Regions from separate parts of the Homo sapiens genome. Here all the other regions are linked to region 1. A link means that fine-mapping ties the variant in region 1 to the expression of a gene that starts in the linked region. Tissue or cell type: whole blood. Region 1 holds a variant in brackets; each other region holds the start of a gene. Each region is shown on its reference strand, or each on the opposite one.

Region 1 (4,075 bases):
TGTGCTAATCTCAGAGGGGTCACCCTCAATATATCTGGATTATCCGTGTCATTCAGCTGCCTCCTTTCTGGTCCTCTTGCTGCTGCTGGGATGTGTGTATGTGAGGGTCTTCTTCCCATACCCCTTGCACCTGGTGCCTGGTGCCTCAAAAGGTGGTGTGTCCCTTGCCAGGCCACTCTCAAGAATATCTATGTACAGCAACAATATAACTCTACAAGGGAGAGAAGTGTGTTCACTTCCTTTTGCTAAGCCCTTCCTTTCCAGAGAGTGTCTTGGGGGGCATCTGACTGCTTCCCCCCACCCTCTGCCAGGCATTGCTGGAGAATGTTAAGACGGCGATGGAGATGCCATCAACCCCACCCTGCAGAGCATCACCAGACACCACCAGACCAAATTCACTTTCCAGCCCCTTCATGTTGAACCTGAAACTTGAGCTAGTGTCTTGGGAGAAAAGGGGGAAATCTCTACGAGGTACCCATCCTTCTGCACCTTAGGTCTGAGGTGCTTGGCCCCCTAGGAAGCCCTACATGAATGGGACAGAAGGTCCTTAACAACACTGGAGATGAAGCAGCCGATGCTGTTTTGGACAAATGAAACAGCGTCCCCTAACCAGCCCTTTCTATCTCATTGTTCTGACTTGGACACGCCATGGCTCACCGCTCCCAAAGTCCCCACTATGTCTCCCTAGCTGAGGAAATAAAAGCAGAGAGGGGTGATGAAACAGTGACGATCCTGGGGAAACAGCTGAGGAGGGGAGGGAGGGGGAAGAAGCCACTAAAAAAGTGAAATGTGCTTGGGAGAATCGGCCTGCCTGCAGGGTAGATGCCCTTTCTCTCTGCTGGCCAGCTCTGCCCCTCAGTGAGAAACTTTACATATTGCTAAGATGCCTGGCCAATGAAACAGTTCCAGAGACTTTATGTCCCCCAGTAGAAATATGAATAGAAATCACCCTGTGGGCAATGGTCCCATTTTAAAATATGCTGTCCCATTGTCCCCTAGAGCCTACTTTAACTTGTCAGACCATGTATTCCACTTCATATGCAAGAGGCATGCACTGAGCCCATAGGTGGCTAGGCAAACACCCAATAGCTCCCTGAAATGGCTTCATTATGCAGCCTCGACAGCCACCCCAACCCTCCCACTCTCACACTGAAACACCCAGACCTAGAGATAGCTAGACACACCCAGACACCCGCCAAGCCCCTCACATACAGATATGTGCACAATGATACACAGCAAACGTACACAGAGTTCAGTACACACAAAGAGCTCACGCCCACGTGCACACACCCCTCAGTTGGGACAGAGTTGACCACCACCACCTTTCTCCCAAACACATGGCTTTTGAACTGCCTTTCCTTGGATCCAGTTCAAGGGGATGGAGGAGCAGTGAGAGTCAGCCGCCCTTCCACTCCAATTTCCCAGCACCTCCCTTATCTCTGCCTCACAAGTCACCCAGCCCCCCTCTCTTCCTTCCTTGTGCTTGAAGAATCTCTCCTTGCTGGAAAGCCCCCTGTTTTCTCAATCTCCCTTTCCACTTCGGTAAAATCTCTACTTGCTGGAAAGCCCCCTGTTTTCTCAATCTCCCTTTCCACTTCGGTAAAATGCCCACTTTCTGGTCCCCACCTTTTTCCTGAGTGTAGTCCCAACCAGCCAAATCCAACCTCAAAACAGGAAGACCCAAGGCCAGTGACCCCCATAGGCCTGAGGCTTGTGCAGGCAGTGGGCGTGGGGTAAGGCTTCCTGATGCCCCCTGTCCCTGCCCAGAACCTGATGGCCCTCATTAGTCCTTGGCTCTTA[T/C]CTTGGAAGCACAGGCGCTGACAGCCGTCCCAGCCCTTCTGTCTGCGGGCCTGAACCAAACGGTGCCATGGGGAACTGTCTGCACAGGGTGAGTATGGGGCCAGGCCCCAGAGTCCCTTATCCCTATGCCCCTCATTTCCCCTGCTGTTTGCCCCTCAGTCTTTATATCTCTTCCTTTTCCTCCTCATCTTTTCTCCCTTCCTGCTTTTTTCCTCTTCCTTCAAAGTCTTTTTCCTTCTCTCCTTCCTATGCTAGCCTCCTAGCTCCCTCTTGTGTCCCTCCCTTTGCCTTTGAGTCAGTTCCATCCTGGTCTCTTGGTGCCTTTTCCTTCTGACCTTGCACTGCTCCTCCAGCCCCAGCTGCCCTGGCTTCCCCAGGACTGTTCCTGCTCCGGCTCTTCAGGCTCCCTGCTTTGTCCTTTTCCACTGTCCGCACTGCATCTGACTCCTGCAGAGACCTTGTTCTCCCACCCGACCTTCCTCTCTGTCCTCCCCTCCCACCTGCCCCTCAATTCCCAGGAGACTCTTCCGGTGTAACTCTGATGGCCTCCTCTGGGTATGTCCTCCAGGCGGAGCTCTCCCCCTCAACTGAGAACTCAAGTCAGCTGGACTTCGAAGATGTATGGAATTCTTCCTATGGTGTGAATGATTCCTTCCCAGATGGAGACTATGGTGCCAACCTGGAAGCAGCTGCCCCCTGCCACTCCTGTAACCTGCTGGATGACTCTGCACTGCCCTTCTTCATCCTCACCAGTGTCCTGGGTATCCTAGCTAGCAGCACTGTCCTCTTCATGCTTTTCAGACCTCTCTTCCGCTGGCAGCTCTGCCCTGGCTGGCCTGTCCTGGCACAGCTGGCTGTGGGCAGTGCCCTCTTCAGCATTGTGGTGCCCGTCTTGGCCCCAGGGCTAGGTAGCACTCGCAGCTCTGCCCTGTGTAGCCTGGGCTACTGTGTCTGGTATGGCTCAGCCTTTGCCCAGGCTTTGCTGCTAGGGTGCCATGCCTCCCTGGGCCACAGACTGGGTGCAGGCCAGGTCCCAGGCCTCACCCTGGGGCTCACTGTGGGAATTTGGGGAGTGGCTGCCCTACTGACACTGCCTGTCACCCTGGCCAGTGGTGCTTCTGGTGGACTCTGCACCCTGATATACAGCACGGAGCTGAAGGCTTTGCAGGCCACACACACTGTAGCCTGTCTTGCCATCTTTGTCTTGTTGCCATTGGGTTTGTTTGGAGCCAAGGGGCTGAAGAAGGCATTGGGTATGGGGCCAGGCCCCTGGATGAATATCCTGTGGGCCTGGTTTATTTTCTGGTGGCCTCATGGGGTGGTTCTAGGACTGGATTTCCTGGTGAGGTCCAAGCTGTTGCTGTTGTCAACATGTCTGGCCCAGCAGGCTCTGGACCTGCTGCTGAACCTGGCAGAAGCCCTGGCAATTTTGCACTGTGTGGCTACGCCCCTGCTCCTCGCCCTATTCTGCCACCAGGCCACCCGCACCCTCTTGCCCTCTCTGCCCCTCCCTGAAGGATGGTCTTCTCATCTGGACACCCTTGGAAGCAAATCCTAGTTCTCTTCCCACCTGTCAACCTGAATTAAAGTCTACACTGCCTTTGTGAAGCGGGTGGTTTCTTATTTTGTCTGGGGAGAAGAAGGAGAATGGAGAGAGAGACATTTTTATGTCAGACTTTCTTGCCAGTGTCTGCTTCTATAGCTGGCTTGGGAAGAAGGTGAATGATGAATAAATACCCTCAGGGTACACAGATGTTCTCTTGAGGTGTGGGGTCACGGCCATCTCAAGGGAGAAGAGAAGAGGAACCAGAGCATGAGGGGAGTCATTAAACCAAAAAAAACAGAAGGGATGGCTTAGCTGGAAAAAAAGCTGTTCTGGGAAGCAAATGGAATAGGAACTCAAACTGAGAGATAAACAGTGAAGAGTGATGACAAAGCCCAGAGCAATACCACCTCCCCCTGTCCAACCTGCCCAGCCTCTGTCTTCTGTCTCCTCTCTGGCTTTGTTTAGTGATTAGGACAGTGGTGGGGAAGGTGAAAGAAGCATCCCAGGGGATGTTACTCAGTTCAGGGAACATATCAAGGTAATTTAAAAAGCCACTTCCTGGGAGTCATCTCTCCCAGGTTCCTCAGCATGACCTGAATGTGCGTGCGTGTGTGTGTGTGTGTGTGTGTACACATCTGTTTCTCGATCTGTTAGAATCTACCTTTATGTTAGATGTATGCATGTAAAAACATATGTCCACCCATGAGCTTGCATCTCTGTCAGCACCTG
Region 2 (4,075 bases), not on the chromosome of region 1:
CGTAGTGAGAAGCAAAGAAAGAATGGTAGTGATGACAGAATACCCTGCCTCCGCTTATTGAGGACCTACTCCTTAAAGGCTCACAGACTTGGCTAGGCATGGCAGCTCATGCCTGTAATCCCAACACTTTGGGAGGCCAAGGGGGGCAGATCATTAGAGATAACGAATTCAAGACGAGCCTGGCCAACATGGTGAAACTCCATCCTACTAAAAATACAAAATTAGCCGGCCATGGTGGCGCATACCTGTAATCCCAGCAACTTGGAAGGCTGAGGCAGGAGAATTGCTTGAACCCAGGAGGTAGAGGTTGCAGTGAGCTGAGATAGGACCACTGCACTACAACCTGGGCAACAAGAGTGAAACTCCGTCTCAAAAAAAAAAAAAAAAAAAAAGTCCAGGTCCTCACTCCTTTCCCCTATGTAGTAATAGCAGCCACCCCCCTAAGTCAGGACCACACAGCCCTAATAACACAGACTGGCTCAGCCTCCCCGCCTCCAGAAGAGTCTCAAAGGAGGGGTGGCCATAGCCCTCAGGACTGAGTGTGCATTATAGACAGCACAGCCCCACCAGGACCTACATCACAATCAAAGCCATGAGTTACCACGACTTGGTCTGGTCAGAAACATGGCCTTCCCCTGCCAGGACTCACAGTGTGGCCAGAAATACACACACCCTTCCCCCAGGACTCATATCATGATCAAAGCCATGGCTCCAGGCTGCTGCAGCAGGATGAGCACAAAGAACTCTCCCCTTGCTTATCATACATAAGCAGAGGCAGGATCACAGGGAGACCCAGGCATGTCACTCAATCTCCTGATCTCCATTTCACTGTCTGTTAAACTAGATGTTCTCTGAGGTGCTGGACAAGCTGCAAATTCATTACAATGTTTCAGTTACTCCTAAAACAAATCTTTCTTTTCCTGGTAATAAAAAAGTTGCAGGCCAGGACCCACGCCTGTAATCTCAACACTTCGGAAGGCCGAGGCCAGAGGATCCACTTGAAGCCATGAGTTGGAGACCAGCCCAGACAACATAGCAAGACCCTGTCTCTACAAAAAAAAAGAAAAAAGAAAAAAAAAAGCTGGGTGTGGTGGCGCACCTATAATCCCAGCTAATCGGGAGGTTGAGGTGGGAGGATTGCTTGAGCCCAGAAGGTCGTGGCTGCAGTGAACTATGATCGCGCCACTGCACTTGCTCCAGCTTGGGCCACTGAGCGAGACTCATCTCTTAAAAAAAAAAAAAACTGCCAGCTCATTTAAGGACAGGCAGAAACTCAAGGAAGCGGTTTAAACACCTGGGACCCTAGGAGAGGTGAGCCCCTTAACAATTCCATGAATTTCAGCATTCTCCTAGCTGTTTCACTCTCCAGTTTTACTGTACACCCATGACCCCAGGTGGATACTTACATGTCCCGGGACACAGACACAGGCCCACACGGCATACTTTTCTGTCTCTATCCTGAGCACATCTCTGCTGAAGTTCCTGCCCAAGCTCAGCTTTAAGGCCAAGAGGCACCCTTCCTCCTGTTGGAAAACTAGCCCACCTTTGAAAGTTCTGGGCTCAGAGAGGCCAAGTAATTCACCTAGGGCCACACAGCTCAGTTCCAGTCCAACAACCCGGCCCACACTCCTTGGCCAGGAGAGAGGGAAGGGCCTGGGGTGCCCACAGGGTCCTCCCCAGACTGGGGGCGATGGGGATTGGAGAGGGAAGCGAGGGGGCCAGAGCCCTCCCCGAGGTGATGGTGGCCAGACCTAGCCACCGCCAAGCCGATATGCCCCCACACACCTGTCCCCGCCCCCTGCTCTGCCACACCTGTCTCTGGCCCACCACTGTCACGACCGCCTCACCTGTCCCCAGCAGCCTCCCCAGTCACGGCAACCTCACCTGTCCCCGGTTCCCCATCTGTCTCCCGCCCCTTCTCCATGCGAGACCCCCGCCCAGGCCGCCCTACCCACCCATCCCGGTGCACCTCCCACCTCCTCCCAGAGGACCCCGCCTCACCACCGCGCTGGCAAGCGTGCAGAGCGGGCCGCCCATTGCTGTATGGCATCCAGATCTTCTTCAGGGGGTTCTGTGTCAATTCCCGTGGGGACGCCATCCCGGGGCCGGGATGAGTCGGACTGCGCCGCTTCCAACCCAGCAGCCGGGCCACCTCGGGCCACCCGAGGTCCCGCCCCTTGGGCCCCGCCCCTCCTCAAGCCGCGACAGCCCATGTCTATCTTCCCGCAGGTCCCGCCCCAGAGTGAGTAGGCTCCGCCCCAGCTGAAAGGGGCCCGGCCTCCGACCACGCATGCCCAACTCACCTACCCGCCCGTTTTGGAACAAGTGGGCCCAGTTCTTCAGGCCAGGATCGAGAATGCGCATGCTCAACTCCGGATTGTACTGGTCCCGCCCCAGTTCAAGGCCCGGATTGTGCAGGCCCGCCCCGGATGCGCAAACTCAGCTCTCCCAACCTGCCCGCGCTGATTTGCATAGGCCCCACCTACGGGCTCCGCCCTGGCGCTGCATCCCTGAGCAGCGGCACGCGTGAATTCTGCTACCTCCTTGCTAGGGAGCCCAGGGCCCCCAGGAGGGAGGGGTTTTCATGCAGTGGGACGAGGCCTACGTGACCCGCACGGCCAGGTTGGTCAGAGCCGACAGGGGCCAGTAGGCCTGCAGTCCCAGCCGTCAACTCCGCTGCGCCCTCCTGCCCCTCCTCGGGGTCCCCCTTGACTGCTCCGAGCCCCGGGACTCTTCCGCCGTCCATAGGAGCATGCTCAACCACGCTGGAAAAGCTCTTTTACCTCATGGATAGAGACTCAAAACACATTTCAATATTGTTCCTCTTTCTTTGCTTTGGCTGCTGGGAGCAAATGCGTGGGACTTTTTTTTTTTGAGACGGAGTTTCGCTCCTGTTGCCCAGGCTGGAGTGCAATGGCGCTATCTTGGCTCACTGCAACCTCCGCCTCCCGGGTTCAAGGGATGCTCCTGCCTCGGGTTCCCAAGTAGCTGGGATTACAGGCGCCCACCACCACGCCCTGCTAATTTTTGTATTTTTAGTAGAGGCGGGATTTCACCACGTTGGCCGGGCTGGTCTCGAACTCCTGACCTCAGGTGATACGCCCTCCTCAGCCTTCCAAAGTGCTGGGATTACAGGCGTGAGCCACCGCGCCCGGCCGTGCGTGGCACTTAGTAACCAAGTACTTTGGGTACTCACTAAGCCCTGGGAGTATCTTAATCGTCTTTCCAGAATTTCATTTTTTACAATTTTTTTTTGATTTTTAGTATTTTGGTTTTTTTAACTAAAGTTTTACATATTTTTTGAAAATAATATGTTAATAACATTTTCTCTTCAGGAAAATGGGATGTGCACATTGTCTATCTTACAGTATTACAGTATAAATTAAGTATGTCAATCTCTAAGAAATTCATTTTAAAATACGTTATGGTTGCCTTTTACTATATTTGTATCTCCCTCTTGTCTTTGAAAATGCACTGGGGACAAGGAACAAGGGAGAGATCCAGAAGTTCCTAAACCCCTGGCTCACTTTCTTGTTTGGCCCCCACCGGACTCCTGCAGTTTCCCGCCTCCTCGGGATCCCCAGCCCCGCCTCTCCAAGCTTTGTACACTCTCTGCCCCAGCCCCCACCAACACGGCTTCAACCTGAGCCACACTGCCCTCTAGCGATGTCATCCACAACACCCCTGGCAGGTGCCCTGCATCCTCAGGTTCTCTCTGCCCAGTGTGTACCCAGCCAGGAGCCAGGTGTTGAGGGCATGGGACTGGCAACAAGACTGGCCTCGTGGGCTATAGGTGTAGCACCCCCTCCCATGCCCTCCCTGCCACAGCCCTGCCTTGGATCAGTCCAAGTCCACCCAGCTCTTTAAAGCTTGGCAAGGACCCTTAAGATGACTGACACAGATGTCTTGCCCACTTCATAGGAACTGAAGATTCCAAAGGTCCACATGCTGGAAGCCCATCTGGACCCTCCCCCAAACCAGCTCTAGCTGCTTGCCCTGGGAACACCCTGCCCCAGGCAGAGTCAACAACTTCCTCCTTCCTCATCCTCCTTTTGCAGTATCTACCCGCTTATTC
Region 3 (4,075 bases), not on the chromosome of region 1:
TGGGTAATTTATAAAGGAAAAGAGGTTTAATGGACTCACAGTTCCATATGACTGGGGAGGCCTCACAATCATGGTGGAAGGTGAAAGAGGAACAAAGGCATGTCTTACCTGGTGGCAAGCAAGAGTGCGTGTGCAGGGGAACTGCCCTTTATAAAACCATCAGATCTGGTGAGACTTATTCACTGTCATGAGGACAGCACGGTAAAAACATCCACTCCCGTGATTCAATTACCTCCCACTAGGTCCCTCCCACAACATGTGGGGATTATGGGAACTACAATTCAAGATGAGATTTGGGTGAGGACACAGCCAAACCATATCACCAACTCCTCCTTCCCCTACCCTAAGTTTACTTTTTATTCTAGAATCGAACTTTTGCCATATTACCATATATAAGTTGTGAAGTAAATACAAATCGCCATGTGGAAAAGGAAATTAACTAGCAGAGTGTAGAATTAATTTATTTAGCCAGGTTGTTGTGCCACTCTTGCCCTGCTTCACCCTTAATTTTTTGAATGACTACCTACTATATTCCTAAAGAATGGAGAGCTATTTGGAATCCATCAGTGACTTTAATTTGCTATTAGAATGTAAGTTACACTCTTTTGAATTCTTCTGAAGGACTCCTTTCCCTTCCCAAAATTCTAGTTTCCAAACTGAAATATTAAAAAATATTTCTGCAAGTTATTTTTCCCATACTCTACTGTAATTAAACCACTATTTGTGGTTCCCCCCCCCCCCACACAGACACATAAGCCCCTTGAAGATGTGGGCTGCCTCTCTTCTGTTTGCTCTTGTGTCTCCAACCCCTAACGGAATGCTCAGCACATGGCAGGTTCTCAAATAAGACTTGACTGAACGAATTAATAGAAATGATGCTAATTCCATGTACACTCAAAAGAATACCTCTTTGAAAGCCAGTAGCTTCACTCTCTTCTGCCAACCCAAGACTTCTTCACATCATAGATACTTACAAATAAGTTACAGTAAGCAACAATTTATAAGTAAACACAGTGTGTCAATGCATGCCAAAAGGATGATTACTTTTCTTGGCTATCCATAGCAGGACATAAAATATGTCCTTAGATTTATTACAGATGGCCAGCCGGTATGCACCAGAGAAAATAGTGGAATGGGGGAAGCCAAAAGTTGTGAGTCTGTCATAATGATGTCAAGTGACACACTTTTTCATTGCGATCTAGGTGTACCATACCTTAGCAAAAACAATCTATTTTCCATTTCTGGATTTCTTAATAACTTAAACTATATAAATAAGCTCCTTTTCCATCATATGAACTGTTCTTACATATTCTCTGGCCTTCCTTTGTCCAAATGTTGAGTTGAAGTTTTCATTGCATATTCTCTGTGCACTTTGCATTACCTAATGGTTTCCTGGCTCATGTGAGAGAAGTCAGCGTCAGCAGTCGGGTTTTGCCGAGATATTTTCTTGTCCTTTCCAGCATAGAGCTCTACAAACAAAGGCAGGGTTATCACATGTACCCGAGAGCTGCCTGGGAAAAGTGGGAGCTATAGTTATCAAAATTGGAAACTTTATGAAGTATGCTTTTGTCTCCGTTTTTGTTGCGTTCAATCAGATCAACAAGTGTTGGCTAAGTGTTGAGCGTGGTTTCCTGTGGGATTGTGTAAGGCTCTGTAGGACAATAAACGTGTTGGGGGCACTGAGTAATGTAGCCATTTCTGACCCGGCAGCCAGGAAAATGTGAAACAATTTGCTTCTGGAAACAGGACAGCCGGGGCCGTGTTCCTGCAACAGCAGACCAAGCACCGCGGCGGACCCAGGCAAGCACGGAACAAGCTGAGACGGTGCGTTTAAGCGGCAGGTGGCTACTCAGTGTCGCATACTATGCGGAAAATAGGTTTGGTTCCCGGTGTTGTGGGGCCTGAAGTTACAAACTTTGGGAAGCTCACTTTAAGAAAAATAGTACAACATTTTTAATATGAAATTGCCAGGGCTTTCTCTGGGACTTTAGATGGGACCAGGTAATTTGGAGGCCAACGGCTGAAACTGCTATAATTTCACTGTAAATTCACTCCTTGCTCAAAATCTCAGTTAGGGAAGCTCTCAGGTTGTTTATGTATCACCACCAGTTCTACCTAGCTTTGTGTGTATTCTCTGCTAATTTTCTCCATCCGCTTCTTTAGGTATTGCCTTTCCATAGCCTTTCATATTGGCCTCATAACTGCTTCCAAAGAGACATAGAAATGTTCCTTATACCTTCTTTAACTGTGTTTTTATGATGTTACTTTAGCTACAAATATTTGCTCTTAGGTTCCTGAGGTCTCCCTAAATCAAGTGCTTTGTGTATTTTAGATGGAGATAGACAGGTGGGAGGGAGGTGAACCATGCAGTTGTACTCATATCCATATAATTTTGAAAGATTTTGTGGGCCACAATGATTTCATTGGATTTGAAAAGGAGTGCAACTTTGTGGTCCATGTAAGTGCTTCTCAAGCTTTCCTGTGCACGTGGATCACCTGGGGATCTTGCTAAAATGAAGATTTGGCTGCGCGAGGTCTCGGGTGGGAACTGAGAGTCTGCATGTCTAATGATCGCCCGGATGATGCAAGTGCACGGACCACACTTTGAGTCACATCCAAGTATTTATTTGTAGGAAATATGGTGGCACAAATACACAGTCAATAAGGGTATGGTTCAACCTCATTTTATGGTAACTCGTCTCAGGATGGAAAGTCTGCGACAAACCTACTATGTATGGACTGGTGTTTGTTGACATGGCAATACATGAGGAGGTCTTCCTGCCTCCCATTTTCTCCTATACCCAGGAGCTGGGGACAGAGGGATGAGAAGTAAAATTTTATCATTAAGGATCATTATTATTTCACTGTCTTTAGTTTTTTAACTTTTTATGGTCCTTTTTAAAACTTTGCCTATGGAGTGATCAGAAGGGACATAAGCTTTTAGAATATCTACTAGGGTGTTGGGCATTAGGCTGCCATTTTCTCTTGACTACTTGTAACCCTTCGAAGTGGTTATTGTTTCACTGCCTTTACAGATGGGGAAGCTGAGGTTTAGCTGGGTTAAGTAACATGACAGATTCCATAGAGACAGAGCAGGGATTCGAACCCAGCTCGGTGCTTTCACTTGCACTAACCGGCATCATGAAAGCAGTGTTACATGTTTAATTCAGCATGAGATGCTAGCTCATGGATTTATTACTTTTTGCTTTTCTCCTAAGGAAGTTGCCCAGAGAGAGTGCCCTAAGCAGAGGAGAGGGAGCAGAAAGAAAGAGGTTACTGAAAAGAAGAAAAGACTTAGAAAAGCTCTATGGGGCACTGAAGATTAATCTCACACCTAAAGCAAAACTTAGCTCCAAAAAGACTAGCATTAAGATTCTTGCCTTCTTTGTGAGAAAATGATCTTCCCAAAGTGTCTGGTTTTTATACACTTATTTTGGATCAATTAAGGTATGATGCTCCAAGATGCTGAGAATTTGACTGTCAATGTTAAAAGATTTCTGTCCATATCATGCCAAGATCAACTTTAACTTTCCCTCTCCTGCATAACATCATGTGAAATAAGGATCTGTCAGGTTCTGTGAAGCCAGTATTTGTCTTTGGCCAGCATCCTAAGACTTTTTGAACCACTTTACTTGATCCTCAGTCAAACTTTTTGTTCTTGTTTAAACCTACCATCACATTTTGTTCAGTTATTTAGCACGAAGATAAGCGGGCCTGGCATTTGGACAAATATTTGAAGATCAAGTTTGTCACAGGGCCCTCCAGTTTCCCTTCCAGATCCCACCCCACTTGGAGCGTCTTCCCTTTCTTTCCCACCCTTCCTGCTCTACTGCCCTCCCACCACATGTATTATTTTAACATCTTGACACCTACAAAATCTTTAGCTATATGGCATGTAAAGTAAGAGAGGATAACTAAACCAAGTCAAAGGGTAAGGAATTGCTATCCTTATCTCTGAATTTTAAAAGATAAATCTTTAAAGACACCACCCTGAGCCAGTCAGGGAATACACTTCCTGGTTGAGGGAACTATCCAATGGCCACTTAACTAGATAACCCTGTCTCCCTTGGTATCC
Region 4 (4,075 bases), not on the chromosome of region 1:
TCAACATATTTAACTTAGTTAAATATAGAGTCTTTTTTTCAAATAAGGTCACATTCACAGATTCTGGGGATTTGCCTCAGGACATATCTTTTGGGGCCACTATTCAACCCACTACATTGCCTCTTTTTGTTATTATCTGTTATGGGTGGAACTGCGTTCTTCTCCGCCCCTGCCAGTTTCACATATTGAAGTCCTAACTCCCAGTACTCTAGAATGTGACCTTATTGGGAAATAGGGTTGTTGCAAATTTAATTAGTAAAGTTAAAATGAGGCCATTAAGGTGAGCTCTAAATCATATATGACTGGTATCTTTATAAAGGATAAATTTTGACACAGACATGAACATAGGGAGAATGCCATATGAAGATTATAGGAGACAGGGGTCATGTGTCTACAAGCCAACAAGAAACCACTGGAAGTAGGTAAGCATCATGGAAAATTCTCTCTCAAAGCCCTCATAAGGAACCAACCCTGCAGACATCTTGATCTTGGTCTTCTAGCCTCCAGAATTATGAAATAATACATTTCTATAGTTTAATCCACCCAGTTTATGTGCATCCTTATGACAGCCTTAGCAAACTAATACATTCTACATATATGAATAGCGTTTTAAATGGTGATAATCAAATTGTGGTTTTGTAATCTATAATTAATGTTGTATTTTATCTATGAACATCCCACTGAAAGTATGCTTTTAATTTCCTACTTTATAAACAACTCGGTAATAAATATGCAACTATGTACATGCGGCATTTCTCTTTTATGGATTATCTCCTTTGAATACATTGTAAGACATGGGAATCTAGGTCCAGAACAAGAAAAAATTTCGTTACTGAACACCTTGGGAATGTGTTGCTAAATTGCTTTCCAACAAAAGCGTGATTACAATTTACCTTCCATCTGCTATCTGTTAAGTGATTTCTATACGTTTTCACCAGCATTTGACATTATCATTTGAAGTGCTGTCACACACATTTTGAAGATACATTCAAATTTATTCTTGAGGAGGGGAGGGGTAACGAAAAATACTATAAATTTGGTTGTAACTTTTTTTCTGTCTCTTGCATTCAGGCGGTCACCAGAGGAAATTAGTCAGTGCCTTTAGGCTACACTTAGCTTAACACATTTCATTAAAGAGCCCAGTAGTAGAGAATTCAAGATGGGTGTTATTATTTTAATTTCATGAAATCACTCCTTAATTCTAACTTTCAAAAGTCAAATTTTATTTCTTTAATTGCATGTGGATTGTTATAATGAGGAGAATCAGAACAGCTTATAGGACAATATTTCTTTTCTATTTTTCTTAACACACCATATTTATTTGGAAATTTACCTCCTACATTGTCCAGGGAATTAGGATGGGCGTTGGCCGTTTTTCAGCACTTCCTGGTTGAGGCCAAGGGCTCCACTCACGTGCCTGTCCATCCCTCTACAAGGCTTCCCTGGCAGCTTGTTTTTCCGTTTAAAATTTAACAATGACCAAATCCCAAAAAAGCTACCAGGCTAAGAAATGAAACATCTTTTTTTCTTTTAAGTCCGGAGAAGTGCTGCTGAGCACAGCTGGCTCACTGCTGTTTCTGCGGCCCCCATCTCTGATCCTTTCTAGTCTCCTACCCACCCCCACCCCACCATAGGCAGGCAGAGCCGGATTTCTGCCCTTCAAACCCCGAGTGTGAGGAAGCCTCACCTGAAGTCCTCGCATCACCCTCCACCCTCACGCCCTTGGGTTTTAAAAAGCCACTGCGTTCGTGGGTCACTGCAGGGCGCCTCCGCAATGTCTTTAGCAGATACAAGAGCATCCCTCCCACGGGATGTGCAGTGTAGTCAAGCTGAGTAAACTGGGATTTTTGGCTGCCTTTTCTGCTAGGGTGGGTGGGGAAAGGTATGTCCCCCAAGCGTTCAGTTCAGACTAGAACCTTTGAATCTCTCTCCTGTCTCGGTCTCTCCCTCCACCCCCCTACCCCGCCACCTTTCACGGTGTGGGAGTTCTCCTTTCCCACACCAGAGAGGGGCGCCTTTCTAGCTTCCTTGTCCCCTCGCCCACTGATTAAAAAATGGAGAAAAAAACCAACCCCAAAACCCAAAACAAAACAAAACAAAAGCCCCAAACAAACAAACAAACCAAACCCACCGAAACCAAAACCAACTCCCCTCCCCCAAACCACACAAATGCGGGAGTCATAGCCAGTGGATCCGCTGGTGCTGAACGAATGGAAGCGCGGGGCGGGCCTGCGCGCGCGGCCGCCCTGCCCACGATGCTGTCGCCCCCGCGACCTGTAGGGCCTTCGCTGGCCCCTCACCCTCCTCCCGCCCCGGGCTGAGGCTGCCGCCGGTTTCGCGCCCAGTGCCGAGGCAGCGGCGGAGCCGGGGAAGGTCGGAGGGAGGGTGGTTTCCTCCCGCCCCACACCCAGTCTCCGAGCCGGATATATAGAGTGTCACGTTTGGGAGCCGAAAGACTGGAGCCGTTTCCTTGTGGCTGGAGCGCTTCCCGTAGCCTCGGGGAAGGAGCAGGATTTAGAGGACCACTAGTTGGACCCCATCCTCGTGCTGGAGGAACAGGTATTCCAGGGTCCCCAGCCCTGGCGCTCGCAGAGCCCACGCGCTCCAAAAGCAGAGACCGGACTGGGGGTGGCCCAGGAGGGAGGGCTCGGCTGGGTTCGCAGGGCGGGGCGGTTCCCGGCGGGACCTCGAGGAGGGTGGGTGTGAGGCCGGGTGGGAGGAGAGAAGCATTTGCGGAGGCTCTGCCCCCTGAAGCTGCCCCCGGCTGCACCCCAATCGTCACCGGCCGTTTACGCGCGGTTGGCGTCGGCGGAGCCCGCCAAGGTGGGGCGCGCGGGGGTTGCAAAGGGCAGAAAGCCGGGAAGGACCCAGCAAGGTTAATGTGGGGGGCCGCGCCTTGGGGACTGGGGACCCGGGAAGAGAGGCGCGGGGCCGAGTCCCACCCAGGCCTCCTGGGCCCTTGGGGCTATTCCTGGAGAGAGCGCGAAAATGCCGGGGCCACGTGTGAAACGGCAGCGGTCCTAGGTCCCCTCCCGGTGCCTGGGACCGCCAGGGCGCCCAGTCCTGGTCCCCGGAGCAGGTCCTCGCCAGCCCCCAGCCCCACCCCAGGCTGCGCACGTCCCTACCCTCCCACCTGGGCCTCGCCGGGGTCGTGGCTGACGCGCGCTGGGGCGACTGGTGAGGCCAGGGCGGGCTTTGCCCCTGTAGGAAGTTTTAGACATCTTCCTGCGGCCTGGGCATCCTGGGGGTGTGCAGGGGAGCAGGTGCCAGCAGACTCCCAACTGGAGTAGATGGCTTGCAGGAAGGCTGCTCAACACTCCTAGCAAGTAGAATTACCCGCGGGGCAGTCTCAGTCTATTAAAACAATTCATGCCCAATCGTATCCTACAAACCAGAGGAAGGCGTCTCACCTGCCAGCGGTGGCACCATTTCTTCCACGGTTGAGTTATGTGGTGTGAGCAACCAAGGTTATCGCTGGATCTGCAAGAGTTTGGCCACTCGTTGAATCACGTAAAGTGCCCCCATTATGTGATGAGCAAGGACAGAGTAGGGTCAGAAAAGTGACCAGGGAATTCAGGTAGATCGTGCTTTTCTGTTTGCTAGGTTGAGAGAAATTTGACACTGGGCAAATGGAAATTTGAGAATTACCCCGTGGTTTCAATTACCCATCTCTGTATATTCCCATTTATAAGAGCTGGAGATTTGACTGACAGGTGTAGTTAGTCCAAAATTTAGAAAGGGGGGCAAGGGACTAAATAAAAACTTAAGGCAGCCACCTAAACTGCAAGAGCAGGCATTTCCGCAGAAGGGATATTTGTGTGTGAGACTTCTAGGAGATGGGCATGAGGTTTTTACCAGGCCGACGCGTGTGTCAATATTTCATCGGTAGTATTTCTCAGGATCCACGTCTTTACAGTACTCTTTTCCTAATTCTGAGGGCTGCTTCTGCCCCTGCTGTATTAACAAATTCCTCACTTACTCCTATTTCTAACATTGGGCTATAATTATCTATAAAAGAGATGTAAATCACCATGAGTTGGTAAATCATACAGCTATTAGAGAAATTAAAGTAAAT
Region 5 (4,000 bases), not on the chromosome of region 1:
TTCTGCTTTCTTTTTAAATCCAGAAAAAACAGCACCTCCTCTGGATTCAGAGCTAGAGCAGGAGGAGCCTTCCCTTCCCGGAATCCCTGTTCCCTTTGGGGTGAGCAACTGACTGCGTCGTGGGGGCGGGGAGGGCTTCCCTGTTCGCGTTCGGCCCCAGGGAGACCTGCGGGAATCGTTCTCCCTCGCCACCACCCACCCCCTGCTTCCTTCTCCCCCTCGCCTTGGCCAGGCTCGGGGTGAGGAGTGTTATCCCGGAGTCTGGGCGCCTCGGCAGTGACGGCTCCCCAGGGACTGCAGGGGGAGCCCGGGCTGCAGCGCCTGCTCAGTTCGTGCTCACTGCGTCGAAGGCTCCCCCGGCCTGGCTCCGCGCCCAGCGCCGCATCCGGGAGGAGGAGCGAGGAGGCGGCGGAAGAGCCCGCGCGGCCGGAGTCCGGGGCTGGGAGTGGAGAGGGAACCTCCAGGGGGCAGCACCGAGCCGCCAAGCCGGTCCTCTCTTCGCGCCCAGCCCGGGGTCCCCAGACAGCCCATAGGGAAGCCCCTCTTTCGGATTCCCGCAGTGTGGGCCGGCCCTCCACCTGGACTGGATAAAGGGGGGAAAGTGACCCCTCACCACAAGGACCATTATCTCCTGGTGAGAACAAGAATCAGGCCTCTCTTGGGGCAATCAGCTTCCCCACTTCGGTCCCCCAAAGGTGGGCTCTTTGCCGGCGGGGACTAGGGAACAGCCTTTCGGTTCCGGGGGAGCACAGGGGACCCCAGGCACCAGCAGCCCCATCCCACCGACAGGTGGCAGAGGCAAGGCAGCTCACTGCTATACAGTGTCCCAAGAACCAAGTGGCCGTGACTTCCTATCCTCAATTTCCCAGCGACACCCGGAAAGACACCGTGCCATAGATCGAGGCCCGGGGTCAAGGCCCCGCCTCTCCTGGGCGGCCCCTGCCCAGGCGGGCCCAGCCGCTCCTCCCCCGCACTCCCGGTTCGCTCTCACGGTCCCTGAGGTGGGCGGGCGGGCCCTGGATGACAGCGATAGAACCCCGGCCCGACTCGCCCTCGCCCCCGCTCTGGGTCTGGGCTTCCCCAGCCTAGTTCACGCCTAGGAGCCGCCTGAGCAGCCGCGCGCCCAGCGCCACACGCCACGAGCCCTCCCCGCCTGGGCGTCCCCGGATCCCGCGAGCGCTCGGGCTCCCGGCTTGGAACCAGGGAGGAGGGAGGGAGCGAGGGAGCAACCAGCTGCGACCCGGAAATGCCATATAAGGAGCAGGAAGGATCCCCCGCCGGAACAACCCTTATTTGGGCAGCACCTTATTTGGAGTGGCCCGATATGGCCCGGCCGCTTCCGGCTCTGGGAGGAGGGAAGAAGGCGGAGGGAGGGGCAACGCGGGAACTCCGGAGCTGCGCGGGTCCCGGAGGCCCCGGCGGCGGCTAGAGCTCTAGGCTTCCCCGAAGCCTGGGCGCCTGGGATGCGGGCGCGGGCGCGGGCCCTAGGGTGCAGGATGGAGGTGCCGGGCGCTGTCGGATGGGGGGCTTCACGTCACTCCGGGTCCTCCCGGCCGGTCCTGCCATATTAGGGCTTCCTGCTTCCCATATATGGCCATGTACGTCACGACGGAGGCGGACCCGTGCCGTTCCAGACCCTTCAAATAGAGGCGGATCCGGGGAGTCGCGAGAGATCCCAGCGCGCAGAACTTGGGGAGCCGCCGCCGCCATCCGCCGCCGCAGCCAGCTTCCGCCGCCGCAGGACCGGCCCCTGCCCCAGCCTCCGCAGCCGCGGCGCGTCCACGCCCGCCCGCGCCCAGGGCGAGTCGGGGTCGCCGCCTGCACGCTTCTCAGTGTTCCCCGCGCCCCGCATGTAACCCGGCCAGGCCCCCGCAACTGTGTCCCCTGCAGCTCCAGCCCCGGGCTGCACCCCCCCGCCCCGACACCAGCTCTCCAGCCTGCTCGTCCAGGATGGCCGCGGCCAAGGCCGAGATGCAGCTGATGTCCCCGCTGCAGATCTCTGACCCGTTCGGATCCTTTCCTCACTCGCCCACCATGGACAACTACCCTAAGCTGGAGGAGATGATGCTGCTGAGCAACGGGGCTCCCCAGTTCCTCGGCGCCGCCGGGGCCCCAGAGGGCAGCGGCAGCAACAGCAGCAGCAGCAGCAGCGGGGGCGGTGGAGGCGGCGGGGGCGGCAGCAACAGCAGCAGCAGCAGCAGCACCTTCAACCCTCAGGCGGACACGGGCGAGCAGCCCTACGAGCACCTGACCGCAGGTAAGCAGTGGCCTACGCCGAGGGGGAACCCTTTCGCCACCATCCTGGCGTCCTGTCCTTCACCGCAGGAGTGCTCCTGGATCTTAGAATGAGAGCCGGGTTTCCCTTTCATTCCTCGCATCCCCAGAGTCATGTGTTAGAGGGATGCCAAGGAACCCCACACAGCCCACCCCCTGCCCTCATCCCTAGCGGAGCGCAGAGGACCGAGCTTTTGTTTTGGATGGAGAGCTCTGGAGCTGCGTGGGTGGGTGGAGGGGGAGGGCTTGTTTTGATGAGCGGGGCTGCGCCCCCCACCTCCAGTAAGACTTGCCTTGCCTTGCTTGCCGCCTGTCCCCAAGGAAGGACCGTGATCCTTGGCCGTGGATGTCCCGGCAGCCCGGGTTTGGGGGCGCGCACTAGCCGCGGCCATGGGGGTGCTGGCGGGAATCCCTCGCCCGCACAGCCGCCGCTGCGGAGCGCTGCGAGCTGCAGTGGAGGGGGATTCTCCGTATTTGCGTCAGCTGTTGTTGAAATGGGCTCTGCCACTGGTGCGGGTCCAGGAACATTGCAATGTGCTGCTATCAATTATTAACTACCTCGGGAGTCAATGGTAGCCGGCCCGGTCTCTTGCCTGGCAGCTCGGGTCGTCCTCGTCCTCCAGTGATTGCTTTCCAGTAACCAGGCCTCCCGCTTCTCTCTCTCCTGCCAGAGTCTTTTCCTGACATCTCTCTGAACAACGAGAAGGTGCTGGTGGAGACCAGTTACCCCAGCCAAACCACTCGACTGCCCCCCATCACCTATACTGGCCGCTTTTCCCTGGAGCCTGCACCCAACAGTGGCAACACCTTGTGGCCCGAGCCCCTCTTCAGCTTGGTCAGTGGCCTAGTGAGCATGACCAACCCACCGGCCTCCTCGTCCTCAGCACCATCTCCAGCGGCCTCCTCCGCCTCCGCCTCCCAGAGCCCACCCCTGAGCTGCGCAGTGCCATCCAACGACAGCAGTCCCATTTACTCAGCGGCACCCACCTTCCCCACGCCGAACACTGACATTTTCCCTGAGCCACAAAGCCAGGCCTTCCCGGGCTCGGCAGGGACAGCGCTCCAGTACCCGCCTCCTGCCTACCCTGCCGCCAAGGGTGGCTTCCAGGTTCCCATGATCCCCGACTACCTGTTTCCACAGCAGCAGGGGGATCTGGGCCTGGGCACCCCAGACCAGAAGCCCTTCCAGGGCCTGGAGAGCCGCACCCAGCAGCCTTCGCTAACCCCTCTGTCTACTATTAAGGCCTTTGCCACTCAGTCGGGCTCCCAGGACCTGAAGGCCCTCAATACCAGCTACCAGTCCCAGCTCATCAAACCCAGCCGCATGCGCAAGTACCCCAACCGGCCCAGCAAGACGCCCCCCCACGAACGCCCTTACGCTTGCCCAGTGGAGTCCTGTGATCGCCGCTTCTCCCGCTCCGACGAGCTCACCCGCCACATCCGCATCCACACAGGCCAGAAGCCCTTCCAGTGCCGCATCTGCATGCGCAACTTCAGCCGCAGCGACCACCTCACCACCCACATCCGCACCCACACAGGCGAAAAGCCCTTCGCCTGCGACATCTGTGGAAGAAAGTTTGCCAGGAGCGATGAACGCAAGAGGCATACCAAGATCCACTTGCGGCAGAAGGACAAGAAAGCAGACAAAAGTGTTGTGGCCTCTTCGGCCACCTCCTCTCTCTCTTCCTACCCGTCCCCGGTTGCTACCTCTTACCCGTCCCCGGTT
Region 6 (4,075 bases), not on the chromosome of region 1:
GGGAGGCAGATGTTGCAGTGAGCCGAGATCACGCCACTGCACTCCAGCCTGGGTGACAGAGTGATACTACACCCCCCAAAAATAAAATAAAATAAATAAATACAACTTTTTGAGTTGTTAGCAGGTTTTTCCCAAATAGGGCTTTGAAGAAGGTGAATATAGACCCTGCCCGATGCCGGCTGGCTAGGAAGAAAGGAGTGAGGGAGGCTGCTGGTGTGGGAGGCTTGGGAGGGAGGCTTGGCATAAGTGTGATAATTGGGGCTGGAGATTTGGCTGCATGGAGCAGGGCTGGAGAACTGAAAGGGCTCCTATAGATTATTTTCCCCCATATCCTGCCCCAATTTGCAGTTGAAGAATCCTAAGCTGACAAAGGGGAAGGCATTTACTCCAGGTTACACTGCAGCTTAGAGCCCAATAACCTGGTTTGGTGATTCCAAGTTAGAATCATGGTCTTTTGGCAGGGTCTCGCTCTGTTGCCCAGGCTGGAGTGCAGTGACATAATCATGGCTCACTGTATCCTTGACCTTCTTTCTGGGCTCAAGCAATCCTCCCACCTCGGCCTCCCAAAGTGCTAAGATTACAGGAATGAGCCACCATACCTGGCCCTGAATCTTGGGTCTTGGCCTTAGTAATTAAAACCAATCACCACCATCCGTTGCGGACTTACAACCTACAGTGTTCTAAACATTTTATATGTTTGATCTCATTTAATCCTCACATCAATTTAGGGACAAAGAGCCCCCCACCCCCCGTTTTTTTTTTTACAGCTGAGGAAACACTTCAAAGTGGTAAGACATTTGCCCGAGGTCCTGAAGGAAGAGAGTAAAGCCATGTCTGCTGTTTTCTAGAGGCTGCTACTGTCCCCTTTACTGCCCTGAAGATTCAGCCTGCGGAAGACAGGGGGTTGCCCCAGTGGAATTCCCCAGCCTTGCCTAGCAGAGCCCATTCCTTCCGCCCCCAGATGAAGCAGGGAGAGGAAGCTGAGTCAAAGAAGGCTGTCAGGGAGGGAAAAAGAGGACAGAGCCTGGAGTGTGGGGAGGGGTTTGGGGAGGATATCTGACCTGGGAGGGGGTGTTGCAAAAGGCCAAGGATGGGCCAGGGGGATCATTAGTTTCAGAAAGAAGTCTCAGGGAGTCTTCCATCACTTTCCCTTGGCTGACCACTGGAGGCTTTCAGACCAAGGGATGGGGGATCCCTCCAGCTTCATCCCCCTCCCTCCCTTTCATACAGTTCCCACAAGCTCTGCAGTTTGCAAAACCCTACCCCTCCCCTGAGGGCCTGCGGTTTCCTGCGGGTCTGGGGTCTTGCCTGACTTGGCAGTGGAGACTGCGGGCAGTGGAGAGAGGAGGAGGTGGTGTAAGCCCTTTCTCATGCTGGTGCTGCCACACACACACACACACACACACACACACACACACACACACACACACCCTGACCCCTGAGTCAGCACTTGCCTGTCAAGGAGGGGTGGGGTCACAGGAGCGCCTCCTTAAAGCCCCCACAACAGCAGCTGCAGTCAGACACCTCTGCCCTCACCATGAGCCTCTGGCAGCCCCTGGTCCTGGTGCTCCTGGTGCTGGGCTGCTGCTTTGCTGCCCCCAGACAGCGCCAGTCCACCCTTGTGCTCTTCCCTGGAGACCTGAGAACCAATCTCACCGACAGGCAGCTGGCAGAGGTGGGCAAACACCTAGTCTAGAGTTGGGGAGGGCTGTCCGTGAGGGTGTTGAGTGTCCCAGAGAGGATGCAGGGCCTCAGAGGAGATGCTTTAGGGGTGTGTTGGTGGTGATGGGCGTATCTGAAGAACAGAGGTGTCCAGGGTTAGGCAGTGGGGGGTCTTGTGGAGGCTTTGAGCAGTGATGGCCAGAAATGGGCAATGGGGCTTTCCTAGGTGGGAAATGGGAAATGGTTTGGGGTGGGGGAGGCATTGGAGGGTTCTGGGGTAAGCATAGGCTGGGAGTGAACAGGGGCAAACCTTATGCAGCTGTGGGGTAGAAATGGGCTAGAGGCATCCAGGGGTGAGAAGGAGCTGAGGATGTCTAAGGAGGGGAGATCCCTGGGTGGTCAGAAAGCACTGGTGTCTGGAAAGCATTTAATGCTTTATTAAATGTTAGTCCCTGCTGGGCATGACGGCTCACACTTGTAATCCCAGCACTTTGGGAGGCTGAGGTGGTAGGATCGCTGAAGCTCAGGAGTTTGAGCCCAGCCTAGGCAACATAGTAAGATCCTGTCTCTACAAAAAAATTAAAGAAATAGCCAGGCACAGTGATGTGCACCTGTAGTTCCAGCTATGCAGAAGGCTGAGATGGGAGGATCGCTTGAGTCCAGGAGGTCCAGGCTGCAGTGGGCTGATACCGTCTCTCCGAAAAAGAAAAAGAAAAAAGACTCCCTCCATGAGTGTCTGGAGGGAGTCCTTTGGCCCCAGCTGGGCAGAGAAAGGGGTCAGAGATCTGGCATGTGTGTGTCCCTTCATCCACAGGAATACCTGTACCGCTATGGTTACACTCGGGTGGCAGAGATGCGTGGAGAGTCGAAATCTCTGGGGCCTGCGCTGCTGCTTCTCCAGAAGCAACTGTCCCTGCCCGAGACCGGTGAGCTGGATAGCGCCACGCTGAAGGCCATGCGAACCCCACGGTGCGGGGTCCCAGACCTGGGCAGATTCCAAACCTTTGAGGGCGACCTCAAGTGGCACCACCACAACATCACCTATTGGTGAGCCGGGGCCGTGGGGGCAGCGGGGTGGGGCGGGGAGGCCAGGTCTGGCTCTTGGGCCAGCGGTGAACATGTCCTGTCTTGGACGCGTCCCTGGGTTTCACTATTTAATGTGTGGCCCCTGGGGAGTGTCCCCACCTCTGAGCCTCTGTTTCTCCTTCAGGGAAATGGCTCTTGCAATCCAAGTCCTCCTGCCAGGGCCATTGTGAGGGTCTAAGTAGACAAAAAAAAAAAAAAAAAAAACAGTCTGGAAGCAATTTATAGATGAGAGCGTGGACGGCAGAGAGCATTGTGTATGTTGAAGTCTCTGCGATATGGGGTGTCCCTGCTGCCCCGCTCCAGCCTTTCACTTCTGACCTCCTTCCTCTGGCTCTTACGCTACAGGATCCAAAACTACTCGGAAGACTTGCCGCGGGCGGTGATTGACGACGCCTTTGCCCGCGCCTTCGCACTGTGGAGCGCGGTGACGCCGCTCACCTTCACTCGCGTGTACAGCCGGGACGCAGACATCGTCATCCAGTTTGGTGTCGCGGGTGAGAACGTGAGGAGGGAAAATCCAAGAGACCTGGGCGGGGTCAGGGAAGGGAGGACCACGGAGAGCGTGGAGGCAGCAGTGGCCCCGGCTTCCTCTTGCCTGCCCGCGCTGCCCTGGCTTATACGGCCCCTCCTGCCAGACAGTGCACAGGGCCAGGGCGCCAGGCTGGGAGAGCTTCGCGCAGGCGGGATTTCAGCCCGCACTTATTTCGGAGCCCTTGCCTTGGGCAGCGCACAATCTGCGCAGCAGTACTCGGCTAACCCTCTTCCTCTCGACCTGTTTCTTCAGAGCACGGAGACGGGTATCCCTTCGACGGGAAGGACGGGCTCCTGGCACACGCCTTTCCTCCTGGCCCCGGCATTCAGGGAGACGCCCATTTCGACGATGACGAGTTGTGGTCCCTGGGCAAGGGCGTCGGTGAGATTCTGAGTCCTCCTGGCCCCTGATTCCCTTCATTCTCTCCCACTCATCACCCGCCGCCCTAACTCCGGTCCCCCCTCCTCCTGCAGTGGTTCCAACTCGGTTTGGAAACGCAGATGGCGCGGCCTGCCACTTCCCCTTCATCTTCGAGGGCCGCTCCTACTCTGCCTGCACCACCGACGGTCGCTCCGACGGCTTGCCCTGGTGCAGTACCACGGCCAACTACGACACCGACGACCGGTTTGGCTTCTGCCCCAGCGAGAGTGAGTGAGGGGGCTCGCCGAGGGCTGGGGGCGCCCACCACCCTTGATGGTCCTGGGTTCTAATTCCAGCTCTGCCACTAGTGCTGTGTGGCCTGCAATTCACCCTCCCGCACTCTGGGCCCAATTTTCTCATCTGAGAAATGATGAG
Region 7 (4,075 bases), not on the chromosome of region 1:
AGACGGGGTTTTGCCATGTTGGCCAGACTGGTCTTGAACTCCTGGCCTCAAGTGATCCACCCACCTCGGCCTCCCAAAGTGCTGGAATTATAGGAGTCAGCCGCCGTGCCCGGGGTCAAAACTCTTTTTCTAAAATGTCGTTAGAAGGGGGTTGTGACAGCTCTGTGCAACTTGTCCCCTTTCCTGTTTGCTTATGTAATTCTGTTGGAAAGTATTAAGTTGTTTAGCAGAATGATAATATTTTCAGATCGCTTTTGTCCTTTAAAAAGGATGTGGCCTGCCTGCCTGGTGCCTGGGAAGCTGAAATACCAGGAAGAAGAGCAAAATCCTGGGTGTTTTTTTGAGAGTGAGAGGAGGACAGGATTTTGATTGTTCTACAATGATATACAACTCTTCCCTACTCCATGCCACACTGAGAGGCAGAGTGGTGGACGTACCTGGGAGAAGCCTGCGGAGCCGAATGTGCCCTCCAGGATGGACTTTTATATCTTGATAAGCCTGGGGGTCACCATGCTGCGTAGGGAGGCCGGAGACCTGCCACTGACGGTGGTTATCCCATGTCATGGCTTTCTTCATTCCCACTTTACCTTTTTGAGGCTGGAAGGTATTTAGGGGATGACAGAAAATCAAGTTTGAAGGTCAATGGAAATATTGGGCACCCACTAGAATGTCCCACATCTGTAAATACATGTGCATCTTTGTAAACACTTAACAGCTGTTTTGGGGAGTGCTTGTTTAAATCCACAGATGGCATTTTGCCAGAGGCCTCCTTCAGTTCCCTATTTCTCTCACTCAAGGTATCCTAGTTTGGAGATCCAGACCAGGTGCAGCCCATGTACCCTGATGAACCCCAGGTTCCCCTCTCCAACATCTTTCTCACCCGACAGGTGCGGCCCTGAAATGGGTTTCTACTGTCTCCTCACACAGTCCCCATGTTCCCCTCCTCGGGTTAGTTTTAGGGTAGTCTAGCCTGGGAAGGAATTTGGGACTGATCATGCCACGTTCCCTGGAATGGGACTAGAAAGGAATCCTGGGCTTCGTGCGGACCAAGGCCCCACTCAGGTTGTCATGGAAAATGAGGCTGAGAGCCCCTCTCTGCAGCACCCTGTGGGACGGAACCCGAGGTCTCTGCTGGTCCCGGTGGGCACAGACCTGCAGCCAACCCGGTGTTCCGTGAAGCCCTGATTTCCCAATGAAGCCCATGGAAGCCATCACTGGTTTCCATGGGAGCGGACCATGGCCACCCCTGCTCCTGTTCCCTGTGGGAAAGGACCAAGGCCGCCCCTGGTCCTGGTCACTGTGGGAAGGGACTGTGGTCACCGCTGGTCCTGGTCCCCTTGGGAGGGACTGTGGTCACCGCTGGTCCTGGTCCCCGTGAGAATGGTCTGTGGTCACCGCTGCCTGTTCCCTGTGGAAGGGAACGTGGTCACTGCTGGTCCTAGTCCTCTTGGGAGGGACTGTGGTCACCGCTGGTCCTGGTCCCCGTGTGAGGGACTGTGGTCACCGATGGTCCTGGTCCCCGTGGAAGGGACTGTGGTCACCGCTGGTCCTGGTCCAGGTGGAAACAGACCGCGGCTACCCTGGTGATGGACCCCACGGGGCACACCCGCGCCACCCCGCACCCAGGGCTCGCGCCGCCCGAGGCCCCCGGTTCCTGTCCCCCTCCCCGCCTGGCGCCGGAACCTGCGAGCTGGGGCGCGGCCTCGGGGAGGGGCGGGCGGGACAGACCCAGCCGCCCCGGCTCCCCCGCCGTCCGCGTCTGCGCCGGCCCCGGGGCCTGGTCGGCGGCGGCGGGGCCGGTCGATGGCCCGGGCGGCGGCGGCGGCATGCGGCTCCTGTTCCTGGCGGTGCTGCGGCCACACACCGGCAACGCGGTCACGGCCCAGCGCGTTCGGTAGGTGCAGGGCGCCGGGGCCTACGAAGCCTGGGCCGGGGGCCGGGGGGCGGGGACGCGGGACCCGGGGACGCGGGGCGCTCAGCCAGGCCCCCTCCAGCCGCGCCGGGGCCGTCCCGAGCCGCGCGCACAAACGGATGGGCCGGTGCCGCCTGCCGGGCGCGCGGGGGTCGGTGCCTTCTGCGTGGCGCGCGTGTCCCCGGGTCTCCGTGCGGCCGGCGCATTGGCCTCGCGCTCTCCGGAGGGGACTGAGCAGGTGAACAGGCCCGGAGCCTGTCGTGGAGGGGCCCGGGAAGGCCTCGCTGCAGAAGCAGGATGGGAGCAGGATCCGCAGGGATGCGCAGCGGGGTCCGCGGAGCTCCCGGCGGGGGCGCGTTTCCAGGCCGGGGACCGCGGTGCCAGCCCTGCCCTCGCGGATCGGGTCTCGGCTGTGTGCCGGCGTCCGGGGTCCTGTCCCCGAAGTCCCTTTCCCACCTCCCCTCTGCCCTGTCTATTCTCGTCTTCCTGGCTGGTTAGCTCCTTCACACTCATCTTTTTCTGCCTTTGTCTTATTTGTTTACTTGTTGGTCTGTGTTCTGGTCGCTGGAACGCAAGCCCGGCGGGGGCCCGGGGAGGGGCCGCCGCGTTAATCCCGCCGCCTCCCACCCGCACAGCGGGCGCTCGGCCTGTATTAGCCGGATAAACATATTCCTTGAGGCGAAGCCTGGGAAGTGCCAGGATTAGAGCCTGCAGCTTAACAGAAGCCGTGTGTGTGTGTGTGTGTGTGTGTGTGTGTGTGTGTGTGTGTGTAAAAGCGGACTTGCTTCATGAAATTTCCCGATTTACTTCCCTTCTGTGGGCCTGTTTCCCCATCAATTTATTTTTTTGAAATGGAGTCTCGCTGTGTCACCCAGGCTGGAGTGCAGTGGCGCAATCTGGGCTCACTGCAACCTCCGCCTCCTGGATTCAAGCATTCTCCTGCCTCAGCCTCCCAAGTAGTTGGGATTACAGGTGTGCACCACCACGCCCGGCTGATTTTTGTATTTTTAATAGAGACAGGGTTTCACCATGTTGGCCAGGTTGGTCTCGAACTCCTGCCCTCAGGTGATCCGCCTGCCTCGGCCTCCCACAGTGCTGGGTTTACAGGTATGAGCCACTGTGCCCGGCCTCCTCATCATTAAAATGAGCAATTGAGACTCCACCAACACTTTCATGTCCCTTTCAGCTAATTTCTCCTAAAGATCATAAGCAGAAATGACCAAGAGAGGATCCATCAGTTTTCTGAAATTTGCTGGAAAATTTACACTCAGGTTTCATGGTGCAGGTTTCTATTAAATAGGTCAGTGATGCTCTGCTTGGGTTTAGCAGTGAGGAGCCCTTTGTGTTCCTGGCTCTGTTGGATGAACCAGCATCCCAGTATGGGAGAGGAATGAAGGAGGTGATTTCACATAGGGATTAGTGCTATTAAGAAAGCAAAACTAGGAGGCTGAGGCAGGAGAATCGCTTGAACCTGGGAGGCAGCTGTTGCAGTGAGCCAATTGATCTGGGATCACGCCACTGCACTCTAGCCTGGGTGACAGAGCCAGACTCCATCTAAAAAAAAAAAAAAAAAAAACAACAACAACAACAAAAAAAACAAAAAACCTAGGGCAGGCTTTCATGGCGGCTCAAGCCTGTAATCCCAGCACTTTGGGAGGCTGAGATGGGAGGATTGCTTGAGCCCAGGAGTTAAAGACCAGCATGGGCAACATGGTGAAACCCTCATCTCTACAAAAAAAAATTTAAAAATTAGCTGATGTGGTGTGTGCATGCCTGTGGTCCTAGCTACTCAGGAGGCTGAGGCAGGAGGATCAGTTGAGCCCAGGAGGTTGAGGCTGCAGCGAAGTGACATTGCACCACTGAACTCCAGCCTGGGTGGCAGATCAAAACTCTAAAAAATAAAACAAAACTGTTAACGGAAAGAGGTCCTGATCCAGAACCCGATAGAGGGTTCTTGGATCTTGCACAAGCAAGAATTCAGGGCGAGTCCTTAAAGTGAAAGCAAGTTTATTAAGAAAGTAAAAAAATAAAAGACTGGCTACTCCATAGACAGAGCAGCCCCAAGGGCTGCTGGTTGCCTTTTTTTTTTTTTTTTTTTTTTTTGAGACAAAGCTTCATTCTTTCGCCCAGGCTGGAGTGCAATGGCGGGGTCTCAGCTCACTG

The links.
Region 2: PFKFB4 starts here. The variant in region 1 is fine-mapped to the expression of PFKFB4 in whole blood (TOPMed, PIP above 0.99).
Region 3: BMX starts here. The variant in region 1 is fine-mapped to the expression of BMX in whole blood (TOPMed, PIP above 0.99).
Region 4: FAR2 starts here. The variant in region 1 is fine-mapped to the expression of FAR2 in whole blood (TOPMed, PIP above 0.99).
Region 5: it holds the start of EGR1, and the variant in region 1 is fine-mapped to the expression of EGR1 in whole blood (TOPMed, PIP above 0.99).
Region 6: MMP9 starts here. The variant in region 1 is fine-mapped to the expression of MMP9 in whole blood (TOPMed, PIP above 0.99).
Region 7: GLT1D1 starts here. The variant in region 1 is fine-mapped to the expression of GLT1D1 in whole blood (TOPMed, PIP above 0.99).

Annotation. Positions count from the first base shown.
Region 1 is chr1:159,203,093-159,207,167 of GRCh38, forward strand. It overlaps CADM3 (cell adhesion molecule 3), which reads left to right. Exons shown (of 9, transcript NM_001127173.3): 9 at 1-221. ACKR1 (atypical chemokine receptor 1 (Duffy blood group)) reads left to right here and starts at 1,783. Exons shown (of 2, transcript NM_002036.4): 1 at 1,783-1,888; 2 at 2,369-3,408. The coding sequence starts at 1,868. The coding sequence ends at 3,358. The variant T/C (reference allele first, on the strand shown) is at 1,801.
Region 2 is chr3:48,554,680-48,558,754 of GRCh38, forward strand. It overlaps PFKFB4 (6-phosphofructo-2-kinase/fructose-2,6-biphosphatase 4), which reads right to left and starts at 2,124. Exons shown (of 14, transcript NM_004567.4): 1 at 2,002-2,124. The coding sequence starts at 2,098. RefSeq lists enhancers at 2,527-2,616, 2,747-2,836.
Region 3 is chrX:15,499,117-15,503,191 of GRCh38, forward strand. BMX (BMX non-receptor tyrosine kinase) reads left to right here and starts at 1,691. Exons shown (of 19, transcript NM_203281.3): 1 at 1,691-1,824.
Region 4 is chr12:29,146,849-29,150,923 of GRCh38, forward strand. FAR2 (fatty acyl-CoA reductase 2) reads left to right here and starts at 2,430. Exons shown (of 12, transcript NM_001271783.2): 1 at 2,430-2,559. RefSeq lists silencers at 2,278-2,337, 2,648-2,797.
Region 5 is chr5:138,463,812-138,467,811 of GRCh38, forward strand. EGR1 (early growth response 1) reads left to right here and starts at 1,668. Exons shown (of 2, transcript NM_001964.3): 1 at 1,668-2,257; 2 at 2,946-4,000. The coding sequence starts at 1,951. RefSeq lists silencers at 272-541, 862-1,261, 1,272-1,621, 1,712-1,921 and enhancers at 454-1,653, 726-1,566, 1,567-2,406.
Region 6 is chr20:46,007,390-46,011,464 of GRCh38, forward strand. MMP9 (matrix metallopeptidase 9) reads left to right here and starts at 1,519. Exons shown (of 13, transcript NM_004994.3): 1 at 1,519-1,675; 2 at 2,477-2,709; 3 at 3,094-3,242; 4 at 3,533-3,661; 5 at 3,754-3,927. The coding sequence starts at 1,538.
Region 7 is chr12:128,851,756-128,855,830 of GRCh38, forward strand. GLT1D1 (glycosyltransferase 1 domain containing 1) reads left to right here and starts at 1,723. Exons shown (of 12, transcript NM_001366886.1): 1 at 1,723-1,894. The coding sequence starts at 1,827. LOC100128276 (a long non-coding RNA gene) reads right to left here and starts at 1,340. Exons shown (of 3, transcript NR_148996.1): 1 at 1,321-1,340; 2 at 438-597. RefSeq lists silencers at 1,702-1,801, 1,992-2,191 and an enhancer at 2,053-2,704.